Linked DNA regions of Homo sapiens: region 2 is linked to region 1. Evidence: fine-mapped expression QTL. Tissue or cell type: monocytes after R848. Region 1 holds a variant in brackets; the other region holds the start of a gene. All regions are shown on one strand. Distances are from middle to middle.

Evidence for each region. PIP is the estimated chance that this variant, and not a neighbour inherited with it, causes the effect.
Region 2: PRKG2 starts here. The variant in region 1 is fine-mapped to the expression of PRKG2 in monocytes after R848 (Quach 2016, PIP 0.95).

Annotation. Positions count from the first base shown.
Region 1 is chr4:81,422,331-81,430,438 of GRCh38, reverse strand. It overlaps RASGEF1B (RasGEF domain family member 1B), which reads left to right. Exons shown (of 14, transcript NM_152545.3): 14 at 2,647-4,046. The coding sequence ends at 2,671. Among named protein-coding and RNA genes, the nearest start is that of RASGEF1B, 46 kb to the left of the region's middle. RefSeq lists a silencer at 2,610-2,904 and an enhancer at 2,680-3,264. The variant T/A (reference allele first, on the strand shown) is at 4,400.
Region 2 is chr4:81,210,779-81,218,886 of GRCh38, reverse strand. It overlaps PRKG2 (protein kinase cGMP-dependent 2), which reads left to right and starts at 3,665. Exons shown (of 19, transcript NM_006259.3): 1 at 3,665-3,951. It overlaps LOC124900726 (a long non-coding RNA gene), which reads right to left and starts at 4,001. Exons shown (of 2, transcript XR_007058162.1): 1 at 3,929-4,001; 2 at 2,663-3,322. RefSeq lists enhancers at 3,632-4,132, 4,133-4,633.

The DNA.
Region 1 (8,108 bases):
CTCAATTAGACCCTCTACCTTATGGCAAGGACAGAGGGCTTTCTGTATCTCAGCATTCTTGCCTCGGTGTACTGGAAGAATCGGGTCGCACATAGGCTTGGAAAATGAGTGCAAAGCTTTTTGTTTGTTTGTTTGTTTGAGACGAAGTCTCTCTCTGTCGCCCAGGCTGGAGTGCAGTGGGAGGATCTCGGCTCACTGCAGGCTCCGCCTCCCGGGTTCACGCCATTCTCCTGCTTCAGCCTCCCAAGCAGCTGGGACTACAGGCGCCCGCCACCACGCCCGGCTAATTTTTTGTATCTTTAGTACAGACGGGGTTTCACCATGTTAGCCAGGATAGTCTCGATCTCCTGACCTCGTGATCCGCCCGCCTCAGCCTCTCAAAGTGCTGGGATTACAGGCGTGAGAGTGCAAAGTTTTATTGAGTGGAAGTAGCTCTCCGCCTATGGGGGAGCCCAAAGGGAGATGTTTTTACACTGGAGTGGGGCCACTCAGTGGCCCAGGCTCTCCTCCGACTGCGCCTGCCAAACTTCGCCTCGTCCCGCCAGTAAGTGGCCTGCCAGTGTGCTGGCGTATGTCGGTGTGCCCATCTGCCAGCGTGCTCCCCTCAGTGTCCTCTCGACGACCAGCCGCTCCTCAGACTGCCCCTGCCAAACTCCGCCTCATCCCGCCAGTCTGTCCTGCGTGCTGGCATCTTTCGGTGTGCCCTGCCGGCGTGCCCTTCTACCAGTGTGCTCCCCTCAATGTCCTCTCGACGACTCGCCACTTGCGTCTTCTTCAGCAGATGTGTTCCTCACCACGTCCAGCTACTTGTGTGTCTGTCTGCCGGCGGTCTCGGGTTTTTATAGGCCCAAGATGGGGGCGTGGTGGGCCAGGGTGGTCTTGGGAAATGCAACATTTGGGCAGGAAATGTCTGTCCTCACCTAGGTCCGTGGGGGTTGAGCCCTAGCCAGGGACCTGCCTTTCTCTACCCAGCACTTCCCTTCCCCATTCCGTATCATTTAAAGGGACCGTGCTCTTCCCCTCCCAGCACTCCCGTATCAATTGGTTGAAATGAAAATTATATTCTTTGGTATAAAAGACAGTTTCCACGTTAAAATTGTTTTTTAAGGAGCTTTGAAGAACAGCTCTCATCTGTGTTGGTGTTCAAGCCACACACTCTGCCTTTTCCATATCCTGTCTGTTCTCATGGCCCAGCTCCAATGCCTCCCCCGTCCCTGGCCCGTTTTTCCCTAGAAAGAATTTCTCCAGAACTCATACACTCAGGAGGCACTCTTCCTCTCTCGTTACCAGCCATGTGGTTTTGTGTAGTGTTTGTGGTTTTCTCTATTGCTATGTAAGCCCCTTGAGGGCAAGCACAGGGTCTTCCCCTAATGTCTGCCCCAGCTCTGGACACAGTGTCTTGCTCTCTATTACTCGTCAGCCCATGCTCCTGTAGTGTCATTGAATGGTACTGGGTTATCGCAGGTGTTGGCCAAGGCATAGCAACCACGAAGAAGTTAAAACAAAATAAAACAGGCTATTATAATTTACAAAATACATACGTTAAGTGGATACTAAGATTAAGCATAATCATCCCTTGGTATTTATGGGGGATTGGTTCCAGGACCTCCTGCAGATACCAAAATCTGAGGATGCTCTAGTCCCTGGTATAATAAAATGAAACTTTCTGTTGCTGTTGTTTTCAGAAATATTCTTTTCTTGTGGCCATCAGTCTTACTGATTCAATAACACATAACCTGTTAGGGTAAACTCAAAATAATAAATAGATAATACTTGAATATAGCCATATGCATCCTCTCTTATACTTTAAGTCATCTCTAGATTACTTATAATACCTAATATAATGTAAATGCTATGTAAATAGTTGTTGTACCATAAATCATCTCTAGATTAATTTCAATATCTAATATAATGTAAATGCTATATACATAGTTGTTATACCATATTACTTAGGGAACAATGGCAAGAAAAAGAGTCTGTATATATTCAGTACAGACCCATATTTTTTGTTTCAAATATTTTTGATCTGCAGTTGATTGAATCCACAGGTGCAAAACCCACAGATAGAGAGGGCTGACTATATTCTGGAATCATTGTACCTACCTGAAAACTTTTATACATTAGCTTTGAAGGCAGTAAGATATTTTTACATAGATGCTTTTCTTGGTGGCCCTAGAGCCATTCATTGCAGACACGTAGATTCATCAGTGGCAGATACACCTCTGACGGCAGACACCCTTATTGTCAACTATTGTTTAAACTCTCCCAGTGTTCATGGAATGTGTTGTGAAGATGCTTATATCTACCAAGTAAATCTATCTGTGATAACCTGTACCTAAAAGCTCTTTATCATTAATGATCTTTGCTTTTTTTGTTTTTGTTATAATATAAACCTACGCAAGATATAGATTTATCTGTTTAAGCTTTTGCCATCTCCATTAATAAATGTTTGTTTTTTAAGTGACTGGCAGTTTTCCCAGAGAGCCAATAGGACTTAAAAGCTTGATTTTTTTTTTCCTGGTTTAACTTTGTAAAATCAAACTTAAAACACAGGAAAGATAAAATTAGTATTACACAAGGCATTTTCATCCTAGTTCAAGTAGTCTGTTACATTCTGTCTTAGGTTGTGTTGTTTTTATTACTCAGGTCGAGCCTCTTAGGCAGAGTTTAACACATGGGAGCTGCCTGCCTGCTGCTGCTGCTGCTTCCTGCAGATCATGGAGGGGCTGGCCTTTGTTTTCTGGCATCTCGTACCACGAACACTCATGAAGACCCTGCAGTCATTGGAGCACCCGGGTCAGCAAAGCACACAAGCTCACTCAAGACCAGATGGAGAACTTATTTCCTGCAGCTGACAGATAGACTCAGATTTTGTGAGACTGAAATGTTCACTGAAGACACTTGAGAAAGAATCCTCTAAAAATCCCGGCTCTGCACATTATTCATCTCCTGGAATTTCCATGTGAATCACAGCTCTGCACCTGGATGGAGTTTTCTTTTGTGTGTGTGTGTTTTTTTTAATTTGGTTGAACATTTGCTGCTAATGGGACTTGCCCAGCTGAGTGCTGGCTCTGAGGAAGCCCACGTTTCTTTTGTTAACTTAAATGAAGAAAGGAGTGGAGGGAGGGGATCTAAAACCCCCCCGTTTAGATCCCAAACCTTAGCTCAATCAGTATTGCCAGAGAGGGGTAAGACTGGTTGGAAGCTGACTGCAGACTTTGTTTCCCCTTAGTATGTGCTGTGTTGTAAATTTTTCTCCTCCCTCCTCCTACAAGGTTTTGAGTTGGCTGCTGGTTAGCAAACTCCTTTTTACCCATATAAGTTATTTAATATAATAATGAAGCTCAACACTGTGGTAGGAAAATAGCCACTAGAAAGAAAATAAAAAGCAGAGTTTGTCATTGGACTGCTTAACATGCTAGAAGGACTTTTTTTTTTTTTTTTTTTTTTTTTTTTTGCTCTTCTGAGCTGTTTACAACTGACCACTGTGTTCCACAGATGTATTTTTCAATAGCTTTTTGTTACTTAGTTTTCCATGATGCCTGTTATTTTTCTCTTGTAAATTTAAATGAGCTGACTTTAAGGATCTTGGGAAAACCCATGGCATAATTACAATTTTCTTTTTAATCGACTTTTCATTACTTTTGGGAGTCTGTTGGTAACTAAAGATGTCAACAAAGAATAAATTGGAGAAGTTACCTGTCCCCACTATAGCAGTAAACAAAACAGATGAAAAACACCTTGCTGTTAACTCAATGGTTGATCTAATTGTGAAATCGTTCACCTTGTTAAACATCTAAGTAAGTCTGTAGTCGCTCTGCAAACAGCCATTATATTTATTTACTCTAGAAGAAACTGTAGAGTAGTAATTCGTGCTAATGAGAAAAACAAAATACCATGTTCAAAACAGATGTATTTGAAAACTTAATGACATGGTTCCAAAAACTAGAGCATGTATGTATGCTGTGCATCATCTCAGCAGACCTAAAATATCCCCAAGTTGTCCCTTTACAGCCATCAATATATTTTACACTCTGCGGCCAGGAGTTGTGGCGTCTTTCTTTTCTTTTATGGGTGGAATTGTTGGGGGCGGGCATGGGCTATAATCACAGTGGATCAGTTCAAGAGACTGGCTAAGAATGTATCTGAGGAAGTTATCTTAACAGTTTGTGCATGGGCATTTATTTTTTAAAAAAGAATGATAGTATTATTTGCCAGGCATTTTCTAAGTGTTTAGCATAGATTCATCTCTACCTATTAGGGGTGGAAATAATAATAACTTGTACAAGGCCACATAGCTAATGAGAGGCACAGATACTTGAAATGGGCCTTCTAATTCCAGACCTCAAGCTTTAAACCACACCACCACAGCATCTCAAACTTCAATATCCTTGCAAAT[T/A]ACCCGGGAATCTTTTTTACATGCAGATGCAGATTCTGTCGGTCTGGGATGAGGCTCAGGGAATGCTGATGCTGCTGGTCCTGGGATCCCGCTCAGAGTAGGAAGACACTTCTGCCTCATGATACCTGTTGAGATTTTAATTTATGGGGGTAGCTGAGTGATGACACACAGAGGCCAGTGCCACTGAAAGCTTTATATTATTCAATTTCCCCAGAGAAAGGGCACATGCCATGCCATGCAGGGCCACAGGGGAAGCACCGGTGTCGGTCGGGGGCAGAAGCAGGAGCAAGAAGAAAGCATAGGCTTTGACTGAGGTTTCTGCAGGGAGGCAAGGCAGAGCAAGGCCAACAGTTTCCAATTGGCAAGTCTGAATAATTCCAGCAGGCTCTGGGCTGGAGGGGCGGTCTCCATTTGCTTGGTACCTAGCCCCTGGGGTGAGTTAGGGCAATTTCTATATTGGCTTGGTGTGTGAAAGTTAGATAAAGGGGAAGGTTGCGGCTATGTTCTTGACAATAGTTAGATATGCTCAGGGCTCAGTCCTTTGCTGTCTCCAAGAATTAGCTAGTCCTGGGAGTCTCTTCCCTGCCAGCAAAATTTATAAGATACCAGAACATCATAAGATACAGAAAAAAAACCGTGATGAATGCAACTTCACAATATTGCCTCCTTTTTCCTTGCACTGCCTTTCCCTGATCCCTCTACCACTTTGGTTATTGTGACAGCAACAAGATTCATCTTTCAACCATCTACACCAGGGGTCAGCAAACTATGGGCTGATGGCCAGATCTAGCCAGCTGCTTGTTTTGTATGGCCCACAAGGTAACAATGCTAGAAAAAAAAAAAGAAGATCTCATGATGTGAAAATTATCTGAAATTCAAATTTCAGTGTCCTTAAGTAAAGTTCTATTGGAACATGGCCACACATTTATTTATATATCTTCTTGTGGCTGTTTTCTGCTACAGCTGCAGCGTCTTATACTAAACAGACTGTATGGCCCATAAAGCCTCAAATATTTACTTTATGGGACTCGATGGAAACTTTACTGACCCCTGATCTCAGTGTTTCTTTTAAGCATTGCAAAGATAGTTTGCAAAAATGCTATGAGAGCTCTATGATGGCATTAGATACCTAAATGTAGCAGCTGAAAAAAATTTCCTAAAGTGGTATTAGGCCTAAAAAAAAGTGATTCTAGGGCTACTTAAACAAGAAGTTTTTACAGCAAGAGTTACATCCTCTACTCATTTTAATGTCTAGGTAAGCCAGAGCTTTAAATCCTGTATTAATTTACCTGTGAAAATATTTCATATTCTCCCTTTTGTGCCGTGTGTGCGTTGGATTCCCCAGTGGGTGTATAGATGAATTTATAATTTATGTGGCTGGATGGAAGCCTGGGTAAATACAAGCATAAACAACATCAGGCAATGCCAGTCGATAGACTGCGATTCCAGGATGTGTTCTGTCCAGGCCTGCCGTTCATTCCAAAGGCCTGCATTTCAAAGCTGCAGGCTTGGAGCTGGGACTGCTGGGAAGGTGGGGGGCAGGGTTCAGAACTGGTTGGGCTTAGGAAGGTACCAGGAGAGTGCACCTTCTAGTACTTGAAATGTCCCTCCATTTTGAGGACACAGGAGTGGCCTACCTTTCATCTAACAAAGACAAGAGAATTGAACGCTGATTGTCTTTGTCTTTGAAGGGTTTATTGCTTTACCTCTTCACTTCACCTGGCTTTGGCACCTCTGTCATTTCTTCATTTACTGTTTTTTCTAGCATACTTTTAACTTCTTTCTGTACTTTCTCTTTCCAACTGCTGTCCACATGCCACCTGTGTATAGAATCCCAAGAAAACATAACCCACCATTAGAATTTTAGTTGCTAAACTATATAAGAACTTTGAGCTGTAGATTAACATCCTCTACCTTCCTTTGGTGCCATTTGTTTACCCCTTTTTCCGAACAAAAAACAATACCTGCCCCTGTTCCAAAGGTGTCTTACTATTCCAATAAAGAATGCATGCCTGGGAATAAAAAGAAGCTTAGACTACTGTTCCAATGGAGCTAAGTGTTCAAAGAAATTCCTGAATTCATTTCCTGGGGGAAAAAATGTGGTTAGTGACCTGGAAACTACTAACAACTTATAAAACTCAATACTCTGATGGCGACTCTGTTCGCTTTACCCCTAAGACATCTTGAAAGGAAAGACTTTTGTCAGAGTTGGGCTTCTAAAGTTTTAATAGGAAATTGAGGCACTTTCTGTATAATTCAAGCCAAAGATTTTTTTTTTTCTGGGTTTGAATGATTGGATAATTGCCTCAATTCTCTGTTCCATGTAATTGAGATCACTTGACTCTTCTTAGTGCTAATAAAGAGATGTTGGGATTCACGGTTTATTAACCAAACTTTTCAGTTTGTGGACCTGTCATTCAAAACTGCAAACAAGGCTGATCCCATGCAAAATAGACTACTGCCTTTATGCTGTACTAAGAATCAGTCCCTCTTAAAGGATGCATTTATAACCTTTATGCAATGAGGAAATTTCCAGGTAGCCAATTTTCTTTATAGTGCTACCAGCCTTCAGCAAGCTTAAACTCTGCCCTGCAAGCCTGAAACCCTGCTTCTCTAAGATTCTACATAACAGGAGATTAAACATCCAAATGTGTATAATCGCATTCTGGACAGTATGAAGAAGCTGTCTTGGAATATTGTTAACTATTAGAATACTTAAAGTGTGCACATCACCCAATTTAGGATTTCTTGGTAATAGTAGCCTATACTTTAGAAAATTAAAGAGGAGGAAGGGGCCGGGCACAGCGGCTCACACCTATAATCCCAGCACTTTGGGAGGCCGAGGTGGGCAGATCACTTGAGGTCAGGAGTTTGAGACCAGCTTGGCCAACATGGAGAAACGCCATCTCTACTAAAAATACAACAAATAATTAGCCAGGTGTGGTGGCCTGTGCCTGTAATCCCAGCTACTTTGGAGGCTGAGGCAGGGAATCGCTTGAACCTGGGAAGCGGAGGTTGCAGTGAGCCAAGATTGCACCACTGCACTCCAGCTAGGGTGACAGAGTGTGACCCTGTCTCCAAAAAAAAAAAAAAAAAAGGAAACTGATGTTTCTGAGAATAAAAAGGAAAATTACTCCTTGATGGATGTCAAACCAGTGGGTTTTCTACAATGAAACAAAGTTTGCTTGCTTTCTTTCCACCCACACTGCTTGGAGAAAATGAAAGTTAGCAAAAATCACCTTTCTCCAGATGAATCGTTGTGGGAAAGTAAGTTTAGCAGAATGTGCTGTCAACTTGGTTGAGATAAGGCAGTTGGAGGACTGGCATTATTAAATTTTCTGTGGTGCAATTAGGGGTCCTCCTAAGTGCAGGTGAGCTGTGGTGAGGAGTTAATGTATGCTCAGTAAATATGTGCTGAATGCATGAGCAAGGCAGTTATTAATCTGGTTATCATTGGGGATTCACAAATTTCACTTTATATCTTGTAACAAATCTCAAATTGTGCCCCTGAAACATCTGGATTTTGAAAAGTGATTCCAATCCATTGTCATGGGTGGCACTATTCCCAGAAATCAACAAAGGAAATCCAAGCCACTGAGGGTTTTTAAAAAATTTTGAGTATTAACTAGACTGTTATACTCTTCTGTGTTTATATGTAGTACCAATAATCAAGACAATAAATCCATCTTTAACAATAATATAAAAAGTC
Region 2 (8,108 bases), 210 kb after region 1:
CTGTGTATAAAACAAGGGAAGACAGGCCTTTTATCATCCCCATTTCCATAGGCTACCTCTGAACTTTGACAATGTGAGAACTCTGGTGCTCTGGTGACAGTGCTTAGCAGAGACCAGGAGACCTAGTGGAGCAGAGGCTTACCTAGTAGGAGGAGGATTAGTCATGAGTATGTCCCACATCGCCCATGTGCTTAGATTAACATTGCAGACGGGCCTCTGAGGGGCCTGTGTTCTTCAGTCAATGGCAAAGAAAGGCCAGTGGATTTTAATTTCTCGTTGTCTTTGTACAGGTAGAAGAAGTCAAGATTTTAGGGTCTGGAATTATATAGACTGGCTCTGCAACTTATTAGCTCTGTGAATTTGATCAAAGTTACTTAACTCTCTGAGTTTCCTTCCTCAGGTGTGCTTACCTCCTCAGGTCAAAGGAGTAAATGAGAAATTACATGGAAGCCTTTAACTCATGACACAGAGTCCAACATCACAGGCCAGATTCCTTCAGCCTGAAGGTGCTTCCTCCTCACTCCCTGTCTCACTCTTACTCATCTTAAGTTTAAATGCCCTCCACTTTTTTTTTTTCCAGAGAGACATTATTCTTGAGCCCCTGTAGCAGACTCTAGATTGCCTACCCAGCATCCATTGCCACCCTCTCCTTTTTATTCGGGTATGCACTTCTCAAAGAATGCAATCGGGAAGAGTTAGGAACCAGTCCTGCAGAGCCTAAGAGGCTGGGAATGGTGATTCTCCCCTCCACCTCCAGCATTTAGGTGTGAGCACATGCTTAGTTTGGATTAATGACAGGTGAGAAGTCTCCTGGAAGCTTCCAAGAACGATTTCCCGACTCTGGAAAAGAGAATCTCTGTGACCTTTGGGCACTGTTGGGATTGCCCATAATAAATGGAGTTGTTCCAGTCATCCTGGGGCCATGGGTGGAGCAGCCCCAGGGGACAAAGCTGCCATACTGGGAATGGCAGGGGGAATAACGGGAACAGGCCAGGGCCTTCCCAGACACAACTGTGTTCCTGAATTCACCAACTAGAGCCTCCTGACCTTGGAACTTCTTGCCTTGTGAAACAGTAAGTTTCCTTATAATTTAAGCCATTCTAAATTGGGTTAATTATTAATTGCAGCCTCCCACATCTAAATTATAACCCCATATTTTTTTCTCTCATTTTCCTTCACAGTATTTCTCCCACATATGCTTACTTTTGTGTTTACTTATTTAATGTCTGTTTCTCTCACTGGATTGTACACTCTAAGTTGGCAGAGATCACAAGTTAATTTTGTTCACCATTGAATTCTAAGTATTTAGCACTGGGCCTGAGATGCAGGAGCTGCTGAAAGCACATTTGTTGAAAGACTGAATTAAAAGCTCAAAAAGTGGTCACTTTCCTTCTCTTCCTCCGTTTCCTTGTTCAGCATGGTAGAGTTGTAGATTTGACAGAGCATAGGATTGCTGGGAGGGAACTTAGGTTCCCCCTCAAACTCTTCCTAGCTGGGTGACCCTGGGCAACAGCCTGCACTGCATCGACAGCTTTCAAGCTTTTACCTCAATGAACGGTAAGAAAGTACATATGACCCAGTTGACCCAGTGTGCGTGCATACTCTGCTATTTTTTATTCTATTTGGTATCATTTTAAAAATGCTGGCTTTGACCCAGTACATCAATTTTATAATCCATTAATTAGCAACCCATTGTTTAAAAAAGCCCAGGACTCAATGAAATGTAAGGACTTTGCAGCATTATTCACAATAGCAAAATCATGGAGTCAACCTACGTGTCCATTAAGGGGTGATTGGATTTATAAATGTGGTTTTATATTATATATATACACATATATATATATATATATATATACAAAATATATACACACACACTATGGTGGTATACACACACATACACTGTGTACCTATCACCTGAAAAACTGGGAAAATTTTTTTTTGATTCAGGGGTACTACACACACACACACACACACACACACACACACACACACACAATGGAATACTACCCAGCCACAAAAACAATGAAATCATATCTTTTGCAGCAACATGGATGGAACTAGAGGCCATTATCCTAAGTGAAATTACTCAGAAACAAAGTCAAAAACTGCAGAATCTCTTATAAGTGGCAGCTAAACAATGGGCAGGCATGAGTATCCAGAATGGAATAACAGACACTGGGGACTCCAATAGGTGGGAGGGTGGGAGGTGGGTGAGGTAGGAATTACAACTTATTAGGTACAGTGCACATTATTAGGGTAATAGGTGCGCTAAAAGCCCAGACCTCACCACTATGTGTTATGTCCGTGTAATGCGACTGCACTTGTACCCCTGAATCTGAAATTTTTTTTTAAAGTGAAGACTTTGAAAATCTGTTTTTCTCCTTTTTGTCATTAAATCGCTAATAAAAATTCAGCCCATCAACTTAAAAGTCCATTATTACAGTGACATACAATTACTTATTTTCTCTTTTCTTGTGGAATTCTTCCTCACTCCTTTCTCCTCTAATTTTTTTTTTTTTGAGGTCTTTATAAAATGTACAGACTCTGGGATAGCTTCATGAAAAGGTACTTTGTGTACTTTCGCGATTTTCCTCCAGTTAGCACAAAAACAAACAGGACTATATTCCTCCTCCTCTGAAACTTAATGGTCTCATTCAACATATTTTACATGGGCCTCATTTTTAATATAAGTTTATGTATGTAACAGTGTATACAAATGTTACATGAGCCCCACTGCCACCATGTGGTTTAAAAACCCAAGAGAGTTGGTTGTAACATTCTCTAGATGCACAGTGAGGAATAGACCCTCACTATACTTTCCATCTCTCAACACAGAAACTGCCCTTGTCCTCCGTGAATTTGCTGGTGAAATTCCTCTGGGGGCAGAAGGAAAGGGAAAAAGCCACATGGAGATCTCACAACTCCAGAGCACAGCAAATAATGCGGTGGGGTGTACATATATATTTAGGAAACCATATTGCACCCTTCAGGAAAAAAAAATGTACTCAAAAGGTGACGAGAGAGCATTATCTTCTTGGGTGATCAAGAAAGCTCCCTTCCCAAAGACCTGCAGATTCGGAAGGTATAATCTCTGTCCCTCGAAACTCGATTCAACCCCTGCCCCCAGCATCACGTGAACTGGCAAACTAGATGTAAGTTATGGCCCCAGAGTCCGGGAGGGGCGCGTCGACGAGCTGCTTCGGGGTCACATGTCTTCGTAGAAAGGCATTGGTGTGACAGAGGAGGGCATGTCCAGGGTACGTGCGCCTGTTTGAGCTCTGGGAGGGAAGGCGAAGTGGAGAGAGCCTGCAGTGAAAACAGACTGGAAGGATGGAGGAAAGGGAGGGGAAGGAAAAAATGAACACCTCCCTGAACTTTCCTCTCCCCTCGTCCCACACACTTGAAATAGAAATAATAACATGAACAAAAATGCTTACAACCACGATGTTATCGCCCTACTTAAGTTGCCTCACTATGGAGGGTATGGGGTATAAAGTGCAGACTGCGGCTGTGTCGGGAGTAAAGGTTCGGGCTAGTGTGCGTGCGGGCGCGGGTGACCCCACCTTTAGGGAAGCCGGCGCCCAACTATCCAGGCAGTAGCCCCGGCTGACCCCCTCCCTCCTCCTTCCCTCCTCTCTTCCCTCCCTCCCTGCGTGTCTCCTCTGCACCGGCCCCCGCCGCGGAGCCAGGCGGCAGCACCGACGCCGCCGCAGCTCCTGCCCGCATCGCGCTAACCCGCGCCCCCGGCTCACACGTAGCCGGAGCGACTGAGCCGGCAGCCCCGGGCCCACGCTGCGCACCGTGTGCACGGCGGGGCTGGCTGAGCTGACCTGCGCTGGGCTCCGGCGCCGCAGGCGGCTGGGGAGGGCGGCGTGGGAGAGGACGCTGAGACGCAGGGGCGGCCGCGCCGAGGTGACAAGCTGCGCACCTGGAAAGTTACCCGGCTGTCTGGTGAGGTTCGTGGGCCGGGGGTCTTGGGCGCCGGGGTGTGAGGGCGCGCGGGGAGGGACGGGGTCGGGGTGCGCGCGTGTGCATGCTGTGAATGCGTTGCGCGATGTGCGCCTCTATTCCACACCCAGCCGGTCTCTTGCTTGTGCTGTTCGAGTGTGGACGTGTGTACGCGTTGCATTCGCTCGGTGTGGCAGCGTTTCGTGAGCTCCTGGAGGCAGGGAAAGGCTACTTGTGTTTAGAGGTTCTGTTGAGGGCGGGAGGGGCTCAGCCCCAGTGGGGAGTCCTCAGGGTTCTCTAGGTTTAGCGAGGAGAAGCGGTGGAGGCTGTTGCTCCGAGCTAGGGGCTTGGCGGTGCTGTCAGGGCTTGCGCTCCCGGCTTTGCTTCGTCGAGCTCTGGGTAGTTGCTAGGGGACAGTCCTCAGGCAAGGACTTTTAGGAGTCCTGGTAAACTTGTGTGGGTGTCCTTTTGTCACTCTGGGCACCGTGAGGCGCTTTCATATTTCTGTATTTCTCGGTGATGAAGAAACAAGAGCAAACAAAGCCCAGAAACCAGCCACTTTGGGGATGAGAAAAAAAGAAATAGGTTCAGTTCTGAGAAGAACTACGGTGCAACTACGAAGCAGCTGAGGCCAGAGCTGACAATAAAAGCAACGCATGCAGAATTAGTAGGTAGGAAGGGTGACGCTGGGACAAATGCCTTGATTTCCTGATCTTCATCTTGTTCCCCAAGTTCCCAGGGGCTTTTTCCTTCTTCTTCTTCTCCTTCTTTTTTTTTTTTTTTTTAAGGAAGAGAGCAACATACACCTGCCCCCACCCCACCACACCCCCATATTTAGAGTTTCTTAGAAATTGTCTCTTTTCTTTGCAAGTTTCTATTTAACTCATGAAGAAGGCGATCATCCCACATAACATACACTAGCTGTTTTCAGTACTCCTGTTTAGTTTTGCACAGGAGGGTATGAGCTAATATGGTAGAGAATTCTCTATGGAGAATTAGAGTGCATCCTCTCCGTTGGAACGCTGTATGACTAAGAATAAACGACCTGAAAAGATGATGCCCAGGGATCTTTCTCTTTTACGTGAAATCCTTAACTCCAGTTCTATGAAGTCATTACAAGTGAGGCTAATGAGAATTCACCTCACAGTGAAGGCATATGTTGCCTGGCTGTTGCCCAAGTCCTGTGATCCCTTATTGTCTTGCTTCCTCTAGGCTATTTTTCCTATGAATTATCTCTTCTTCTCCCATGTTTTCGTTTTTCATATCTCCTGTGCTTCATTATCCTGGAGCTACAGACATTTTCAAATTTTCATTATTTTAAAAATCCCTCACATGAATCATGATATCGTCTTGCAGGCTCTACTCTTAGTGTCAGCTCTTTCCATGGTCCCTTGTAGTTGAGTGTCTATCCCCACTCTTTGACAAATCAGATTCAGCACTTTTCTCTCTGATCTCATTTGCTGTGACAGGCCTGTGGGATGTGAGGTACAGCCTGCTCACCTCTTAAGGATCTTATCTGCATGGCCTTTCTGATGCTTCTCCTAAATCTCTTATTGGTACACGTGTTCCTTCTCCTTTGTGGTTTGCTTCTCCTCCTCTTCTCCCACAAATAATATCCACAGATATTACCTATATGTTCATAGGTAACAATAGAGACATTCCTTTCTTACCTCCCTTAGTGATCTCATCTACAAATGGTACTTCAAGTCTTCTATGGAGCAATCTCTTCCCTTGAGTTTTCTTTTTTGCTTCTACCTGCTAGACATTTGCATCATGATGACCCACAAGCATCTCAAACTCAATATATGTAAATCCAGACTCATTACTGTCTTTTCAAAGCATGCTCATTCTCCTGACTTCTGTCAGTGCCACAGTGTCTAGCCCATACACGGTGCCCTATGTGTTCTTTTTGAATGACTGAATGAATGAAGAGTAGATAGTAATACTTTCCTTCAAGCCTCCTAAGATCAAAACATTGAAATCATTTTGATTGCCCTCCCATGCACATCCATTTAATTACTACATTAGAGATGCTATCCTGCAGTGTTCCTCCTACTCACCCTCTTCTAATATTAATCTCTTCACATCCTCTCTCACTTTAACCAAAGCAGTACCTTCTTACCATATCTTACAGTTTTCTTTCCAACCTCATATAGACCTAGACACTCTCCTCTCCTCATCGCTAATATCCTGGGCACTTGCCTCCAATTCATCAACTTCAGCCTCTATTTATGTATCAATAACTGCTTAATATTTTCAGCTTTCCTCTTTCTTTAGCTTTTCTTGTCCCTCATTTCTTACTGCTCACTAAACTTCTCTACTTAAAGTTTCCACTGGTGCTTCAAACTGAGTATATCCAAAATTAAACTCACTGTCCTATCCCTCAAATCTGCTCCTCATTTTGGTCAATGACATTACCTTTTACCCAGTTGCCACAGTATAAACTTTCAAATCCTCATCGTCTTTCTTCTTGCCACCACTCAAAAATTCTGTCAGCTATAATCTTCTGACCTAGACTTACAGACCTACATTTCTGTGTGTTTGCTTGTTTATCTGTTAATGTAGCCCCCCAAATAGCTGAATTTGGCAGTCAAATATAGGATAGTGGCATTCATAAAATTCACCGCGAACATTCTGCTGGGGGGGTGGGAGGGAGGCACTTTAAAGAGATAACCAACCTCCAGAGTAGCTGCAACTTTGGTACAACAAGGTCATATGATTTCCTGTCAAGAGAAAGTTTTTCTCCAGCCAGGATGCTGTGGACAGAGAAAACAAGCAGTAGATTCCAAACTGAGCCCCGGGTCAACAGTCACAAGGTTGGATGGACAGATGCTTTTAATTGTGGCATTAATGTGAAAGTGAGCTGTTTCTCACAAGGACAACAACTCTGTGTGGTTTGCTTCAGGGAGAAGAATCAGGGATTTATATATTCAATTATTTTCTAAAGGAACTTTAGAGAGACAAGCTAATGGTAACATCAAATGTATCAGTTTCCTATCCACCTAGAATATTATCTGTAGAAGTCTGTATAATTCACTCCTCTGATTTCCAGCTGAACTGCCCATTATCATTAAAAAATCAATTCTGGTTTCCATGATTTATTGAAGGGAAGGACATTGCAGTGTTACATATAGCTGTAACTTTTATTGAATCTCATATGGCAATGTTTTTCTCTCTGGCTACCACGGAGATGGTCAATTTTTTTCTTGAGTTCAAGAAGTTCAAGTCATTAAATAGTGTTGGGACTCTGAGCTTTAATCCTTAAACTATCACCTCCTATTTGGATTGGTGCAATAGTATCTTCCCTTGTCTTACTTCCTCTAAGCTCTTTTTACTCCATTCCTTATTTATGAGAATATTATTTTCCTAAAGGACAAATCTGACCACATAACTAGAGAACTTAGTGTATCTTAAGATTCAGATACCATAATGTGGCGTAGGAAATTTTTCAGTATCTTACTTTTTCAGTTTCATTATTCATTACTCTCCTTCCATCCATCACACATTTCAGCCTGTCCCTTGACTGTGCTATCAGCTTTCTTGCATTCATTTCTTAATACATAATTCTTTTCTTAAACTAATAGACTTTCTATATTGTAGAAATTTTAGGTTTATAGAAAAATTGAGTAAAAAGCACAGAGTTCCTATATACCCACCTCTTAGCACTTTCCCCTGCTCTTAACATCTTTCATCAGTATGGTACATGTGTTACAAGTGATGGAACAAATATTGATGCATTATTATTAAAGTCCATAGTTTACATTGGGGTTCATTCCTTTTGTATATTCCATGGGTTTTGACAAATATATAATGAAATGTGTATATCATTACAGTATCATATTGAATAGTTTTACTGCCCTATAAATGTTCTTTCCCACCTATTCCTTTCTGTCTTTCCCCAAGCTCCTGGCAACCACTGATCTTTCTATGGTCTCCAAGTTTTGTCTTTTCCAGAATGCTATACAGTTGAAATCATACAATGTATAGGCTTTTCAGATTGGCTTCTTTCACCCAGCAATATGCATTTAAAGTTCCTTCATGTCTTCTTGTTGGCTGATATTGCTTTTATTATTGAATAATATTCTATTATATGGATGTGCCACAGTTTGTTTATCCGTTTACCTACTGAGGGACTTCTTGGTTGCTTTCAGGTTTTGGGA